2 separate regions of the Homo sapiens genome follow, and region 2 is linked to region 1. The links come from fine-mapping of genetic effects on gene expression. A gene starts in region 1. The other region holds a variant in brackets. All regions are shown on one strand. Distances are between the middles of the regions.

What was found. PIP is the estimated chance that this variant, and not a neighbour inherited with it, causes the effect.
Region 2: its variant is fine-mapped to the expression of KLHL30 in whole blood (TOPMed, PIP 0.92).

The regions. Positions count from the first base shown.
Region 1 is chr2:238,133,571-238,142,428 of GRCh38, forward strand. KLHL30 (kelch like family member 30) reads left to right here and starts at 5,098. Exons shown (of 8, transcript NM_198582.4): 1 at 5,098-5,188; 2 at 7,115-7,958. The coding sequence starts at 7,185. RefSeq lists an enhancer at 7,354-7,867.
Region 2 is chr2:238,023,615-238,032,472 of GRCh38, forward strand. UBE2F (ubiquitin conjugating enzyme E2 F (putative)) reads left to right here. Exons shown (of 10, transcript NM_080678.3): 6 at 1,728-1,798; 7 at 6,942-6,999; 8 at 8,608-8,640. It overlaps UBE2F-SCLY (UBE2F-SCLY readthrough (NMD candidate)), which reads left to right. Exons shown (of 19, transcript NR_037904.1): 5 at 6,942-6,999; 6 at 8,608-8,640. It also overlaps the pseudogene RNU6-1333P. Among named protein-coding and RNA genes, the nearest start is that of SCLY, 33 kb to the right of the region's middle. RefSeq lists an enhancer at 4,484-5,097. The variant C/T (reference allele first, on the strand shown) is at 4,620.

The DNA.
Region 1 (8,858 bases):
GAGTTCCTTCTCTTTGTTTCTTTCTTCCCTTTTTTCCTTTCTTTCTTCCTTTCTTTCCTTCATTTTCTTTTCTTTCTTTCTCTTTTTCTTTTCTTTTCTGTAGATTCAGTGGCTGAATCTACAGGTGTCAGCCACCATGCCCAGCTAATTTCTTTTTATTTTTTGTAGGGACAAAGTCTTGCTATGTTGCCCAGGCTGGTCTTGAACTCCTGGGCTCAAGCAGTCTGCGCGCCTCAGCCTCTCAAAGTGCTGGGATTACAGGTGTTTCTGAGCTGCTTCTAACGAGCAGGGCACTGGGAGCAGCCAGGAGCATCCTGAACGCTGCCTCTCAGTCAGTGGGGCCCTGGCTCTTGGCCACAACACGCCCCCAGTGGAGACAGAGCAGGGCTGCTCCACCCAGTGCGGTCACTGCCCAGGGCTGGCAGAGGGCAAGGGGCAGCAGGTGGGTCTAGGGAGAGCCCTTGGCTGGGGGCATCAGAAGGTTTGGGCGCTGCAGTGTCTCCTGAGATCCCCTCATGCACCAGCTGCTGGCAATGTTGTTCTGAGGGCCCTGACAGAGGAGGGGGCTGGAGGCAGGGGCAGCAGGCCTCAGGTCACTCCCTGGCCGAGGGTGCTCAAGAGAGAGCACTGGGCAGGGAGTCGGCCCTCCTGGCTCCGGCTGTCCCTGCCCACTCGCTATGCCCTTGGGCAAGTCCTCCATAGCCTCCAGGCCTCAGTTTCCCAGCTGAGGAGCTGGATCAAGGCCAGCAGGGGACACACACATCAGGGGTCCCAGGAGAGCCTGGGGTGGGATGAGCCAGGCGAGGGGTGAGATGTGGCTCAGATCCAGGCTAGGCCCCTGGAGTGCTGCTGGGGTGACCCCTAAATGACCTTCTGCCAACACCCTGCCTCTGGGGGAGCTGCCCCAGGGATTCTGATTCCCTTGGCCTGGGGTAGGTCTGGAAAGCTGGGGTTTTAACACATTCCAGGCGGCTCCGATTCCCAGCAGCTGGCACCCGTGGCCCACCAGCAGCTCACCTGTGGGAAGCACGTGTCCCCGGGGGCAGGCAGGCACTGGCCCCTGCGCCACCACACTCACAGCTGTAGGGCCCATTTGGTGCCTATAAATCTGTTGTTCAATTGACAAAAGACTCACTGAGGACCAGAGACGGAATCTACAGCACCCCGGAGGTGCCGATGTCAGTGAGGTGGTCACACGCAAAGCAAAGGCGCAAAGCCTGGGGGCTTCCCATGAGTCAGAAACATCCAGGAGAAAGGGAGCCCCGTGTCCCCAGTCCATAGATGGCAGGATGGAGATGTGGAAAAACAGAAACCCTCCCCAAGGGCGGTGCTGGAACCCCAGCTTCTCCCTCGCAGCTGGGTCAATGTGCAGAGGGGCGGGCTCCCTGCATGTCGGTGCACAGGCTTAATGCAAAGCCCAGCTCATTTAAAAATTCAATGTCGGCCGGGTGCGGTGGCTCACGCCTGTAATCCCAGCACTTTGGGAGGCTGAGGCAGGTGGATCACGAGGTCAAGAGATCAAGATCATCCTCGCCGACATGGTGAAACCCCGTCTCTACTAAAAACACAAAAATTAGCTGGGCGTGGTGGCGGGCACCTGTAATCCCAGCTACTCGGGAAGCTGAGGCAGAATTGCTCGAACCTGGGAGGCAGAGGTTGTAGTGAGCCGAGCTCATGCCACTGCACTCCAGCCTGGGTGACAGAGCAAGACTCTGTCTCAAAAACAAAAAAGATTTTCAATTTCATCTCAATAGGATGACGTTGCTCTTTGTGAAGCTGGGAGTGATAACCTCCTTCTGTTCGTGGACGCTCAGGCTGTTTTCCATTTGGGACTATTACAATGAAGGTGGTGTCACCTGTGTGATTATTCCCTCAGAATGGATTCCGAGCGTGAAATCACCGAGTTAAAATCTGTAAGGCCGGGTGCAGTGGCTCACGCCTGTAATCCCAGCACTCTGGGAGGCCAAGGCAGGCAGATCACTTGAGGTCAGGAGACCATCCTGGCCAACATGGTGAAACCCCATCCCTACTAAGAATACAGAAAAATTAGCTGGGCATGGTGGTGCATACCTGTAATCCCAGCTACTCAGGAGGCTGAGGCAGGAGAATCGCTTGAACCCAGGAGGCGGAGGTTGCCGTGAGCGGAGATTGCACCACTGCACTCCAACCTGGGTGATAAAGCGAGACTCCATCTCCAAAGAGACAAACAAACAAACAAACAAAAAACTGTGTGAGTGAGCTCCCCTCTGCTGGGCTGGGGGCCTTCCAGCTGTGAGGATGTCCCAGGCTGGGTCCGCATATCAGTCTGCCCCCTTCTCGGGGGCCTTACAGCCCTGCACAGCACCTCTCACTCCATCTGGGGTGATTTGGGGCCTGGGTTCCATCGGGCTGACCTTGTTTCCCTTTCACCAGCACTCTCACACGTCAGACGGCCCCTCCTTCCCTGCGGACTTGCCGTGGCACCGCTTTCTGTGCATTGGCTGTTGGGATTTGTTTATTCTTGGGTCAAAACCACCTTGTTTGATGGCATTTTACGCTGTAATGATGACATCTTCGTATCTGAGATGGAAGCCCCCCATTGCTCTGCTGTTTACATGTTTTTGTCTGCTGTACTAGTGACCTAGTGCTGCATAGTCAACTGCCTGAAATCCAATGTCCTTGAACAGCACACACGCATGGTCACACGCATCGTCTCTCAGTTTCTCCTCGGGAGCACGTGTGTGGGGTGGCTGCACCTCAGGATGTCTCAGGAGGGTCCCATGAAGTGCTCAGCCCAACTGCAGTCATCGGAAGCCTGGCCTGGGGCGGGAGGGTCTGCGGGCTGGGACTATAGGTGTGCACCGCCACTACTCCTGGCTAATTGTTGTGTTTTTAGTAGAGATGGGGTTTCACTATGTCGGCCAGGCTGATCTCAAACTCCTGACCTCAGGTGATCCACCCGCCTCAGCCTCCCAAAGTGCTGGGATTACAGGCATGAGCCACCATGCCCGGCAGAAATTCAAAATCTTCAAGTGCTGATCCCATCAGAAACGCCCACAATATAACAAGGTGTGAGGAAAGGGCGCTGACCCACACACGCAGGCAGGCTCATTTTGACAACAGGAAAGAGCTGGAAGCATACTAATGGCAAATGATCTTTTACTAATGACACTTTCTGCTTTTTATTTTTCTGTTTTCCAAAAGGAACTTGTGTTATTTTTATCCTCATAAAAAGAAACAAGTGGTGTATTTTTAAAAACTGCGCCACTCAGTAGCAATCTCTTGATGGAGGATCTGTTTTGCGCCCCCGGTGTTGAGTTTCCCAGACTGACCTGTCATCTGAGGTGCTGGGGCTCCGAGCCCCACGACGGCTGCTGTGAGGCCTCCACACTTGGCAAGCAGTGCTGTTCCCCGAGCAGAGCCAGCTCCCCGTGACAGCAGCCTGTCATCAGAATCCCCTGTCCTCATTTCCTCCAGCCCGAGCCAGGACTGCAAACAAGGGGGACAGTACGGAAACCCAACACTCTAGCGCCCACCCCATAGTGGTCCTGGACACAGCGAGAGTTGGGGTCCTCCATGAGGGTCCCCCACACAACATGAGGCTGATGCCCAAGGCTGGGGAAAAACCCTGGGACAGTGTGGGACACGAGCAGGGGAAAGAGCAGGAGCAGGGGCCAGGCTGGGCTGGGCTACGGCTGGGCTACGGCTGGACTATGGCTGAGCTGGGCTGGGCTATGGCTGGGCTATGGCTGGGCAATAGCTGAGCTGGACTGGGCTATGGCTGGGCTATGGTTGGGCAATAGCTGAGCTGGACTGGGCTATGGCTGGGCTATGGTTGGGCAATAGCTGAGCTGGGCTGGGCTATGGCTGGGCTATGGTTGGGCAATAGCTGAGCTGGGCTGAGCTATGGCTGGGCTATGGCTGGGCCAGGCTGGGCTGTAGAGGAAGCATGGACTCAGGGAATCTCTATGGAAGGTAACCCTAAGGGCACCTTGCAGACTTGGCAGTAATTTGTAGGTGAGCTTCCCCTCCATAGGCTGTGTGCATCTCAGGACCAGGAGTGGGGTTCTGTCTCCCTGGGGGCCGCCTGGACCTCTCTGGTCTGTAAGAGCATTAGGACAATCCCTAGTAGCATCAAGAGGCCACAGCCAGACCCAATACTCCCCAGTTCCTCCAGGTCGCAGCACACCTGGAAATGGTCATACTGCTCAGGCCCACATGGCCGATGGGTAGAGGGCTGAGGGCTGAGGGCTTCTCTCCCATGCACCTGAAGTCCCTCAGCCACAAAGCTCTGCTCTGGTCACTGGTGTGAGAAATGTCCAGTGGCCTCTTGGGTCCCCAACTCAACCCACCTGACCTTGGTCAGGGCCTGTGGTTCTGAGCCCATTTCAGTCCCAGGCGTGAGAGCTTCCCCCTGCGACTACCGTGAACCAAGTGCTGGACGGGAGGCTGATAGTCCACTGCTGTATTTTTAGGTGACCCTGTTTCTTAGCCGTCCTGGGCAGCCCCGAGGCCAAGGCCATGGGGTAGCAGGGCAAGGAGCCCCAAGATCTCCCCTATCCACGCTAGCTGGGCGGGGCAACTGAGTGTGGCACCTCCCCTCTCTGGGCAAAGTTTCCCTACCGCCACCATGGACCCCAAGCTCGGAAAGCCTCTGCTGACCAACCTGTGCTTATTCATGATAATCACGTTTTCCCACGTGACAACAGAACAAGAGGACACATAGGTGCCGCTGACATCAACAGCGAGGGCAGCACCTGTCGGTGTCCTGGCCCTGGGCTGAGGGTCTCTGTGACCCCAGGCCCCCACCACGGGCTCCACTGTACTCAACTTGTAGACGAGGAAACAGGTGGGGAAGCTGCATCCCTGCCCCCACCAGCCAGCCCAACCGCGACAGCTTTCACCTGTCCTTGCCCTGGAGCCCTTCCTGATGTCTGTCCTAGGCCACAAGTCCCTGGAAGGCCTCAGTGGGCTTTCTGAGCTAACAGTCACCAAGGAGCCGGCATCTCACTCCTTCCCCCACCAGCCCAGCCCTCACTGCCTGACCCTCCCCTCGCCCTGCAGACAGAGGCTAAAAATACCCTCCCCACGTGGCCACCAGACCAGCCCTGCCCCGCCCTGCAGGCCTCCGTGTCCCCTGGCTGCCGGCTAGGCAGTCCTGCTCTCTCGGGTCTGTGTTCTCAGCTTCGAGGTCCAGGCTGAGTGAGAGGTAGGATCCAGGGGGCTCTGGGGCAGGGGACAGCAGAGAGGGCAGGGGGAACCCAGCCAGGAGCAGCGGGGAGGGTGGGTTAGGCCCCCGAGGCCAGGGATCACAGCAGGGTGCTTTGGAGACGCCCCCTGGCCCTTGCCAGCGGCCAAGCCAGGCTCCTCAGGGTGGGGGCTCAGGAGACAGGTTTCCCTCCATGTCCCAGCCGGAGAGGTGGGAGGGGGAGGCTGGGCCACCCCTCAGATGGCAGCCAGGGCCACTCAGCCACAGTCGCCAGCCTGGCTGGGCTCAGGCCTTTTGTTGTCCTGCCCACTCGGCTTCCTCACTCCGGGCCTGGGCAGGCACTGGGGTGAGGCTCTGAGACCCTCAGGAAGCCCCGACCCATGCAGGGACTGCAGGGTGACAGGTGTCAGCAGGCACCCCGAGGCCCCCAGGGGAAGTGGGGGCGCTCATGCGTGCCTGCCCATCGCCCGGCAGCAGCTGGCCCAAGGGAGCACAACAATGACGGGAATGTGAGGCCTGCAGGCGGTGGCCCAGGGACAGCCCTGTCACCTACTCAGGCCCCAGCTCATCTCCCGGCTGCCCAGGGAGGGCAGAGCCGCCTTCACCGGGGCCAGCGCCTCCTGGGGAGGGGCCAGGCAGGAACCCCATGCATGCAGTGTTGGGTGGGTACTTCGTGTACCGGCCGGGATGCTGGGGTGTGGGGCCCCGGCCACGTGAGCTGCCCTGTGCGCGAGCCCGGGTTGGTCCGCGAGGCCCTGTGGGCTCCCAGGTGCTTCCCCGCTCTGGGGTCAAGAGGTGGCACCGGGGTCGGGAAGTCGGGGAGCCCTAGCTCCCATCGCCTGCACCTGTACCTGCACCGTGGCTGCCCGGGCCAGATTCTTGGCCTCCTGGTTCTCCAGCTGAGCTTTGTCATTTCCATGCGTGGCGTTCCCACGCATTTTGTACCTGTGGACGCGCGGCCGCCTCTCCTGCCCGGGATGGCCCCGCGAGGCGCCCCCTAGCGGGCGAACGGCCTCTCCGCTGCGCAGCCTTTCGCCCTGGGGTGACCCGGGTCGAAGGCTTGTGCACAGACTTGATCTCTCCTAGGGATGGTTGTCTTAGGGTGCGATACCAGAAGGACATAAACCACATGCACATAATTACATGAGCCTGAAAGCGGCCTTGCTGACTTCAACCATGCGGGCGTGGTGACGCGAAACCCTCCAGAACGCTGCCTTTGGCTGGCCGTTTCTGTTTAGCAGCCTCCACCCGGCCACGTGGAATGCAGGGTTCAGAGCCTGGGCCCCCAAGCCTAGCTCTGAGTTCAAATTCCAGCTCCACCACTTCCTAAATGTGTGATCTTGGGCAAGTGACTGAAACCTTCTGTGCCTCAGTCTCCCCAGCTGTAAAAGAGGCAATGATTGCACCCACCCTCCAGGACTGTTGTGGGGCTGAGTGGTGAATGCACAGCTTCTCTGCATGCTTGGCACGTGGCCTGGCACCTGGGAGCACCGCGGGAGCAGGAGCTGCTGCAGCCCCCAAATGGCCTCCCCAGCAATGTGGGATCTGGGACGGAGGACGCCTCCCGGGAGTTTGGGTGTCTCCGGGGTCCCTGGGGGGTGGGCTCAGTGTAGCCCAGGGTTGCAGATGACACCCAGGGCATGGGTTCTTTTGCCAACCCTGTTCTGCCCTGAATGCCTGGCCATGGGTAGGTCTCCCACCCTCTCTGAACCTCAATTTCCTCACTGCAAATGGGAATGACACCTGCCCTACCTTGCAGGGTTCTGGGGGTGGCTTGAGGCAGATGGGGGGTAAAGTGACTGGCATATGGTCGATGCCCATCCTGTGTTTATCAAGGGGTGGAAAGGGCTGATGGACAGACCGGGTGGGTTGCTCAGGAGGATGAGACCATCCCCACTTGGCTGACCCTGCTCTCTTCTCTCCTAGGAGCTCGGGCGGCTCCAGGCACTTCTTCCCTTGAGTGGGTGGACTACTGAGGTCCCCTGGGCACGGCGTCATGGTGCGGAACGTGGATGACCTGGATTTCCACCTGCCCTCGCATGCCCAGGACATGCTGGATGGCCTGCAGCGCCTGCGCTCTCAGCCCAAGCTGGCCGACGTCACACTGCTGGTGGGCGGCCGGGAGCTGCCATGCCACCGCGGCCTCCTGGCGCTCAGCAGCCCCTACTTCCATGCCATGTTTGCGGGTGACTTCGCCGAGAGCTTCTCTGCGCGCGTGGAGCTGCGGGACGTGGAGCCCGCCGTGGTGGGACAACTGGTGGACTTCGTGTACACAGGCCGGCTGACCATCACGCAGGGCAACGTGGAGGCGCTGACACGCACGGCTGCGCGCCTGCACTTCCCCTCGGTGCAGAAGGTCTGCGGCCGCTACCTGCAGCAGCAACTGGATGCCGCCAACTGCCTGGGCATCTGTGAGTTCGGGGAGCAGCAAGGGCTGCTGGGCGTGGCTGCCAAGGCCTGGGCCTTCCTGCGAGAGAACTTTGAGGCTGTGGCACGTGAGGACGAGTTCCTGCAGCTTCCCCGAGAGCGGCTGGTCACTTGTCTGGCCGGCGACCTGCTGCAGGTACAGCCGGAGCAAAGCCGACTCGAGGCCCTGATGCGCTGGGTGCGCCATGACCCGCAGGCCCGGGCCGCCCACCTGCCCGAGCTGCTCAGCCTAGTGCACCTGGACGCCGTGCCCAGGCCCTGCGTGCAGCAACTGCTGGCCTCAGAGCCCCTGATCCAGGAGTCAGAGGCATGCCGGGCAGCCCTGTCCCAGGGCCATGATGGGGTGAGTGAGCGGCTGGGAGGCCCCATCCCTGGGAAGCAGGGAGGAGAGCCCCAGAGACCCCACCTGAGTAGGGACAGAGTAAGGAGTGGACATTCCAAGGTGCACTCTGACCTTGCCACGCTCCTTGTTTTGGGCCAGTTCCCCATGAGGACATCACTATTCAGCCCTCAAGTGCAGATCATGCCTCTGTGTGTGTCACGCCCTGTGTGCAAGGGGCAGGGGAATGTGGAAGTGGTAAGATCTGGCCCTGTCCTGAAGGAGCCTGCAGCTCAGTGGGACAAGCCTGGAAACAGACCTCAGGCAGTGTGGAAGGGCCAAATACATGCCTAGGACGCATTCTGGGTGGGCTGGCAGTCAAGGAGGGCTCTCTGGAGGAGGCAGCATCTGAGCTGGGCCTTAGAGGAGGGATAGGAGCTCACAAGGAGGAAAAGAGGGGAAAACCATCCAGGAAGGAGGTGCAGCTTGTGCACAGGCAAGGAGGCACAGACAGGCCTGGCAGTCCGCCTGAGCTTTTATGGGGTGCTACTTCCTGTTTGTGCTGGCAGTGTGCCTGGCAGGCATGGCAGGTCATGATGGAATGACAGGTCTGGGAGTGGCTGTTCGGTCAGCTGCCGGGCACCCTGCTCAGGGGCCTTGCTTCGGGGCACTCCTTTAGAGCCAAGTCCGGGGACAAAGAGTGGCTCAGACTGATGGTCCTCAGGCCAAGGGTGGAGTGAGTAGTGGGCTAAACCCTAACCCCTGTCCCCACTGGATTCCAGCCAGTCACAGAGCGCCCGGCCTCCTGCTGGAGCTGGCTTCAGAGCCTTGCCCGTGGACGGTCACCTTGTATTCTAATTCCTGGCAGTGGGAGATCTGGGGGTTCCATATGGGGGGCCAGGGTGGATGGCTGTGGGAGAGCCT
Region 2 (8,858 bases), 110 kb before region 1:
AAGCATCATAAATAAAAGTTAATAGCAGATGATACACAGGGAAAATGTTACCCATTTCACAAAGGTTTGATTCCTTTTTGAGATGACCTTTCTGATGAGATCCTGTGATTTGACACTTCTGCATATTAACCAAGGGGACCTTTCTGTGGGAGGTCCTGGAGAAGAGGCCCTCTCCCTTACTGCAGGTTGTGGTGGGGTTGGCGGGCGGGGTGTCACATCTTCTGAAGGACATGAGCAGTGTATCAGAAGCTAGGGTTTATGACCAGCAGATCCTCTTCCTGGGCTTCATCCTGAGGAAACATTTCACCCAGGATGAACCCTGCATTGATAGAGCAGGGTTGGGAGAAGAGGAAGCAACCTGAGGGCCCAGAGGTAGGGAAGTGCCTATTAAACTCGGGCAGGTGTACCATGGAATGCAGGATGCCATCTGAAACGATGGCAGAAATAACTAAAACATATGTAGCACAGCTTTCTTCTATAAAGAAAAATGAGTATGCTGCATGCACACTATGTGTGTGGCCTAGAAAAGAGGCATAAACACATGTACATCAGGTGTCACATAATTTCTGGGTAGCATTTTGATGGAGTGTATATATTCTTACATAAAAAACAAAAGTGAAAGACAGCAGAATTTATTAGATATTTACGTATGTTTCTTTTCATTTGTGTTGTCCTTTTCTCTCTGAGTATGGATTGCCTTTGTAACAGAGAAATCTGTTTGGTTTGGTTTGGTTTGGTTTTCTGGTTTGGAGGCAGGGACTCGCTCTGTCACCCAGGCTGGAGTACAATGGTGCGATCATAGCTCACTGCAGCCTACAACTTCTGAGCTCAAGTGATTTTCCCACCTCAGCCTCCTGAGTAGCTGGGACTACAAGCAGGAGCTACCATGCCCAGCTCTTTTTTTTTCCCTGGAGAGACAGGGTCTTACTATATTGCCCTGGCTAATCTTAAACCCTTGGCCTCAAGCAATCCTCCCACCTCGACCTCCCAAAGTGCTGAGATTTTTTTCTCCTGGGTATCTATCATTAATTATATTTTCTTCTTTTAGGTGGCCTCCCAAAGTGAGCCACCATGCCCAAACTAGAAAAATCTTAAAAGAACTTTATCCAAACATGCCAAGTCATAAATGATGTTGATATACTTTATCCCCACAAATTCATTTTCATTCTCTTTCTCTCCTTTAAATGTAAAGTGGACTAGGGCTTTCATCTAGGAAAACGTATGTGACAATAGCATCTTCAGAAAAATCCAGCAAATGGAACAGGCTGTTCTTGCAAGGAGCAGTAACTTTCAGCCATAGTAACTTGTATTGCAAAGGAATCTGGGGCTTCTGATTGGATTTGGACCCAGAGGATGTAGAACTATTCCTTAGAGTGCACTGTGGATACCTTCTGCAGTCCCAAACCCAGGGGGTGTGGGAGGTGACAGAGGTCCAGTCACCAGCACTGTCAGCCGGCAGGACACATGGGGCTTGTAGAGAGGTGCTCAGAAGCCCACGGGTAGACTTTGCTGCTGAGACTAGCCCTTGTGGATGCAGCGCATCAACACATGCCTCATGGGTGAGGTGAGCCAGTATTCAGGGTTGAACACGTGTTCAGCGAGTCAAACTGCACACTGAGTCAGCCATGAAACAAGCGTCTAGATAGGGGATGTGGTAAGGCTCTGGCCTGGAGATGTGATTTGCAGAGACTGTCGGCGTGATCTCTCTCATTGTCTCTGTGTTGCAGCCTCCCAAAGTGAAATGCCTGACCAAGATCTGGCACCCCAACATCACAGAGACAGGGGAAATATGTCTGAGGTGAGTTTATTGTCTTTTCTTTCTTCTACATTCGTGAGTGTCATGTGCAAGCGTTGGGCTTTTAAACATGTTGTCTCCTCTGAAAAGATTTTGAGGCATGGCCAAGATTAGGAAGGGCTTGAACTCAGCTGAAGTAGCTGCGGTTGCCTGCCTGCTCCCAAACCCTACCCTACCTTCTGCCTCCAGACGAGTGTCTTCTCTTGGCCCTCTGGGGGCCACAGCCCTACTAAGTTCTTAGTGCAGCCTCCTTGCCTGCCCAGGATGGACCCTTGGAGTCCCTTGCCTTGTTCCCCTCCTATTTACATGAGAGACCACATTCCCTCCATGTGGCTGATTTTAGCTAAGATGAGAAAATATGATTAATGATAGATACCCAGGAGAAAAAATGTAGATGGCAGGCTTGAGACGACCTTGGGCACTTGTATTTAAGCTGCCCTCTCTCTACCAAAATGGTCCTGATAGATGTCAGGGCACTTAGGGCAGGCAGCCTCTCGGAGCTTCATGCCTGCTGTGACTTGTGTCCCTGATCCCTGGCATGGGCAGAACGTCAGGCATCAGTGATTTCTCCTCCTAAGGCTGCTGGAAAAGTTGTGTAGGTGGATTGGTTGGTTTTTAAAGTAAGTTTCACATTTGGGCTTTATTTTTTCTGCACTTTGTCCCTTTCATCACTTTAAGGCAGCAAGGTTGATTGCAGGGGCTTTGATATCAGACCACCTGGACCTGAGTCCAGCTCGCCGCCCCCGCCCCCACCCCTGCCCGGCTGCCCGGGGCAGCTGTGGGACTTTAGGCTAGGTATTTGAACTGTATGTGCCTCACACTCAGCCAGTTTGGAAAGTAGGCACAAAGTGTTTTCTTAGCACATTTCTCCTACTTTTGACATGAAATGCAATTAGTGGCCTAAGTCATTTCTCATGCTCAACTTCCGTATCTCTTTTCTTTCATTCCTCTCTCCTTAGTAAACACTAATCACCTTTGAAAGGAAATGTGTAAACTGTGGCTGCTGGAAATCTTACCTCAGGATCCCTTTCTCTTTTTTTTTGAGATGGAGTCTCGCTTTGTTGCCCAGGCTGGAGTGCAGTGGCGCGATCTGAGCTCACTGCAAGCTCCGCCTCCCAGGTTCACGCCATTCTCCTGCCTCAGCGTCCCGAGTAGCTGGGACTACAGGCGCCTACCACTACGCCCGGCTAATTTTTGTATTTTTTAGTAGAGACTGGGTTTCACTGTGTTAGCCAGGATGGTCTCAATCTCCTGACCTTGTGATCTGCCCGCCTCGGCCTCCTAGAGTGCTGGGGTTACAGGTGTGAGCCACCGCGCCGGGCCGGATGCCTTTCTCTTCACAAGTACAGTTAGTGCCCATTTGCCCATTTCATTTTTGTATATACTGCTCCTTCTTCAATATCAGCCTCGTTTTTCACAGATGGTTAAAAATACATTTTACCAGACATACCTTTTTAAAAAAGCATCTTCCCTTTGAAGTATCTGTCCTTTACGTATTGAAACATTAAAATTCCACTATCTTTGGTTGCAGGTTATAAATGTGTTTGGCCCAGGCCCCCACTGCCCCGCTTCCTCCTGTGCTTGTGAGGACACCTGGCTCACTTTCTGGGGGGCCATACTCTACTTCCCTGTCTTGTCCCTGCCTTAGTCAGAAATGGGTCCAGAATAGGAAGCTCTCTTGTCCCTTTTGCCGTCTTCTGGGAAGTCAGATGATTAGCAAAGCCTTATAAGGATGAACAGATGGTATCCTGATATAAAAGCCAGACGTCTTAAGGAAAAAGATTGTCAGATTTGACCATGTAAAAATTAAAAACACAAAATGGAAGAAGAAATGATCAACTGGATTAACATCCTTGGTATGTAAATAGTCCTTACTATTCATTATAAAAAAGACGGATACTTCTCTGGAAAAATGTGGCATTGGCTACAAATAGGTGATTCATAAAAGGAGAAATAGAGGTGGGCAGTAAATATCTGAGGAGATGTTCACTCTCATCAGTAACCAGAGAAAGGCGCAGAAGACCATGAAGTGTGGCTTACCACTCACCAGATTGGCAGGCACAAAGGTAGATACTTGGTGGCTGGGGGAGGAGTGTGTGACAGAGAGCGAGCAGGCTCTCTTGTTGGAGGGTGTGTGTATTTGCACACCTTTCATTGGTCCTTCAGCCACGTAGACTACCTGTAACTCGTATGTACCCTTGGACTTGTCAGCTGCACTTCTAGGGATTTAATCTAAGGAAATAATGTGCCAGATTGATGTACGGGGACCACCTTGTTAGTGAAAAGCAGACAGTGTCCAGTGGCAGCTTTATGGTGTGTCCCGAATAAAGGGAAGGAAAAGCCCAACCGCACCTCTGGTTTGTGGTGACGCTGACAGCAGCTCATCAGCCCTTCCCACAGCAGGACTGATGGGTGCCTGGGGCTCCACAGGCCTTTCAGTGCTGGCACACAGGAGCACCTTCCTCTTTTAGAGAGATTTGCCCTGGCTCCACCTTGTTGTCCCGGCAGGGACCCTTCGCCTGCTCTGGCACAAGGTCAGAGGCTCCATGTCTGTGGGATTGGAGGGCCTAGGTCAAGAGCTCAGTCAAAGCTTCTCCTAGAGTCCAAGCTTCTATTACAGTTCGTGGGGTGTCCTTTGTCTCCTTGCTTAATGACATCTCTGATAGCCAAGTGTCTCTGTCTCCTGAGCTGTTGCTGGGACTATCCTCTGTGAGGCCAGGCTAGAACTTCCTCAGTGACTGGAGGCACTGCACCCCTGATGGGCCTCACTGCTGCCCAGACCAGTGGCCACCACATGCTGGGGCCGGCCTTGCCTCCCCATTAC[C/T]TGCCCCAGCCAGATGCAAAGCCCTCCTGCTCTGGCTGTGCTGTTAACAGCAAAGCTCAGGGTGAGCTTCCTTCTCCTTCATTCAGCTAATGTTGATTGAGCTTAGGCACTGGCAGAGGAATTAGCATTCCCTGCTTTTATGGATGAAACAGGCATTCAACAAATAAATGACAAATATATAACTGAAGGTTGCATTAAGATCTATATAAGAAAATGATTAGCTAGATCAGAAATAATTCCTCCATTCAACAAAATATAGCCACTAGGATTTGACTTCATTCCCAAAAAAGTTATTCAGAAGTTGACAATTCAGATCCACAAGTCACCAATACCTCTGTAGGGTAGAAAGACGTCCACCCAGTTGGTAGGATACATGATTTGAGTTTTCCTTTTTTCTTTTTAAGGCTAAAAGTAAATTTTAATGGTCAATTTAAGGTTAGTTATCTGTTTTTTTTAACTGCTCTTCACAGACAATTAAGATTATAGCTTTGATTCAAACTCTACATATTTTTCTCCTGATCTGAATTGACTTTTGTGAATTTAAACATGCTCTAATTCAAAAAAGTTTATCAGAGGTAACAATTATGGATAAAGCCTGATATTTTATTTACAGATCAAAGCCACAGCACAATAATTCAACAAATACAAAAGTAATTTTATCTCCAGAAGGAAGCTTGGCAATAAATTATACTTTTTTCAAAGTATGGAATGATCATTTAATCCTTTTAAAATTATTTAAAATTTTTTTTTTACTTTTTAAGATTATTGGGAAAATGCTAATCTTCTCTGTATCATCCCAATTTGAGCATATGTGCTGCGGAAGTGAGCACTGGAATGATCATTTCCATGAGAGTATATGGTGTGCCTTTACAGCTGATAGACAGTAATGACCAGGACTCTCAGGTACCAGCTTCAGAAACAGGGCTTCATCAGACCTCTGAATCCTGGTGTGCCTTCCCTGAGCATGGGCCCCCCACCTAAGGAGTGATTGATACTCAGAATTTTGCATTAATCTTTTATCCTCAAGCTTTTTCTTTTGAACTTTAAAAAAATAAAAAAAAAAACCCAGTTACGGCTGGGCGTGGTGGCTCACGCCTGTAATCCCAGCACTTTGGGAGGCCGAGGCGGGCGGATCACGAGGTCAGGAGATCGAGACCATCCTGGTTAACACGGTGAAACCCCGTCTCTACTAAAAATTCAAAAAACAAAATTAGCCGGGCGTAGGTGGTGCATGCCTTGTAGTCCCAGCTACTCAGGAGGCTGAGGCAGGAGAATGGCGTAAAACCGGAGAGGTGGAGCTTACAGTGAGCCGAGATCGTGCCACTGCACTCCAGCCTGGGAGACAGAGAGAGACTCCGTCTCAAAAAAAAAAAAAAAAACCCAGTTATTAAAATGTCATATGCTGGGAGCTCCCATTGTTGTTAACCTGCATCAGCAGTGTTTCAGAATGTCGGTGCCCGTGAGCTGCCTGGGTTGGAAGAACAACATTGTTCATGAGGCGTGTGCCCTTGGGCGTGTCTTCTCTGTGCCTTGGTTTCCTCCTGTATAAGACAGGGAAACAGGGATGCTCTCTTCACGGGTGGTTATAGGCATTAAGTGAATTTAATGGCACAGCACCTAGGATTGTGCCTGACATACACATAATAAGCTCTAAGCTTCAGTTACTCCTGTTGTCATGTTGTCATTTTGTTGCCATTGTCATTTTCTTTCTTTCTTTCTTTTTTTTTTTTTGAGACAGGGCCTCACACTATTCCCAGGCTGGAGTACAGGGGCGCCATCACAGCTCACTGCAGCCTTGAACTTCTGGACTCAAGCAGTCCTCCACCTTTGGGAGTACAGGCGTGCACCACTATGCCTGGCTAATTTTTAATTTTTAGTAGAGACAGGGTATCACTGTGTTGCCCAGGCTGGTCTCAAACTCCTGGACCCAAGCTATCTTCCCACCTTGCCTCGGCCTCCCAGAATGCTGAGATTACAGGCATGAGCCACCATACCCAGCCACCATTGTCATTTTCTGAATATTAAATTGACAAATGTTCTTTGTGTGTTGTTTTAAACATGCTCTTCCTCAGCCTAAAACTTCCATGTCAAGTATTACAACAAATAGATAAACATAACACAAGACGTTATAATTGAATATGTATATAACCTTGGAGGTGGAAATGCCTTCCTCAGCAAGAGAAAACTGAGAAGCCACAGAGGAAAAGATGGGTTTAATAAAAAGTAGAGCTCCTGCATGGCACACACCGAGAGGACTAGTTGGCAGCGTGCAGGGCACCTGTGGCTGCTCCTCACTAACCACTGTGTGTTTGTCTTTTTCAGTTTATTGAGAGAACATTCAATTGATGGCACTGGCTGGGCTCCCACAAGAACATTAAAGGTAGAGTCTGTGCCTTGATCTTGATCATAAGTTGTCCCTGTGGTCCTCTCCCTGCAGTAGCCAGCCTCCCGAGAAAGCAGCACATGTCCTTGCCTGTCACATCCACACCAGTGGCCGGACACACCCTGCCTCCTCTTCTCCCTGCTGCCTAGGCTACTTAGCCAGTCACTGACCTCGGTCAGTTTGGGCCGGATGAGCATCCTTGTTGACTTTGCCAGGCACCATTCTAGAACCAGAGATAGGAGCCCAAACTGCAGGCTTCACAGCCAAACCACCCGCCACATAGGAAACCTCATGGCCATCATTCATTCAACAGGGATGTCTTGAGCTTTTCTGGCCACTAGGTGTTGGAGGAGGAGCAGCAAATTGATGTGCAAACCACTCCCTATGGCCAGAGAAGACTGTCAGGTGTTGGGTACCTAACATCAGGCAGGGACCCTAGGGGAACAGCACAGGAAGGGGCTTTTGGCCCTGGCCCTGCATAAGGGAACACTGCAGACTGCATGCAGTCCTGACCCAGCTCCTCCGAGCTGTAGTCTCTGCCACCATGGGCAGCCCACCCAGCCTTTTCTTAGCCTCTCCCCACGCTCTAGAAATGTCCTGCCCTCTCAGAACTTTCCCTCTGCAGGTCGTGCCTCTACCTGGAAGGCGGCCCTCTCCTCCAGCCCTCTCCCTGGCAGACTCCTGCTCCCCTGGGGCTCAGATGGCTGTCATTGCCTCTGGAGCCTCTCCTCCCAGGGTGGGTGCTCTGGGGAACACGTCTCATGAACAGTGCTGGCCTGCTGACCTGCCCATCTGTACATCCCCCTTCCTCAGGCTGAGGGCTCACCTTCACCCACACTCCAACCCTAGGCCTGGCTCACATCGGAAGGTCAGGGATGGGTGGGTGGATGGATTGATGGACTAGAGAAAACAGAGAAAGGCAAATAAAATTACCAACTAGCAAAAAGTAGGGGAGGAGCATGAGAACAGGCCTAAAAAGGACGAAACTCTTGAGTTGATGAAGAGGAAAATGGAGAATGAATTTGTGATTCACAGATGGCAGGTCAGTACAGATAGAACAACTCTGGCTTTCAGTTTTATTTAATGAAAATCTCTGATCCTTGAATTGTGAATCTTCTATGATTCTTTAAATAACTAATGCAAAATCATTAAGAAAACTTAATAGGATGAGGGGTAATTAACTTATCTACGACCGCAAGAGGCAGTAGATGTAAAAACAACAGACTTTATTTTGAAGGTGACTTTTTAGAAGTCAGAACCATATTTGGTGGTAACAAGTAAGAGGTGATTTAAGGTGGAGCCCCTATGCAGACACTGGCCTGCGGGCCCTGTCGTGCAGGATTGGGCTTGTCAGGTCTGACTGGGAGGGTGTCTGATGCTATCTTTGATTTTATATTCACTACCTGAGACTGCTCATATCTTTGAATTTTCCAGAGTTTGTTGTTACACTTGAAGAGAAGTTATTTTAATTTTCTATCTTGAGAAAAACAAACCATGCTAAAGACAGGTTTTGATACAGTGCAAAGCATATTTCTTGATCATGGGTTTAAAAGACTAGGTGCACTTTGGCTTAAAACTTGTTTTCTGTTTTCTTTTTTATTTCAGGATGTCGTTTGGGGATTAAACTCTTTGTTTACTGTAAGTACAGTGATCAAAATCCCAAGTTATTCTCAATTTCCTTGTTGCTGGTTTTAGACATTGCGTTAAGACATGGTTTTAACACAAAACCATGTTAAAAAATGAAACATGGACTGGGCACAGTGGCTCACGCCTGTAATCCTAGCACTTTGGGTGGATCCCCACTTGAGTCCAGGAGGCCCAAACCCCATCTCTACAAAAAATAGAAAAATTAGTTG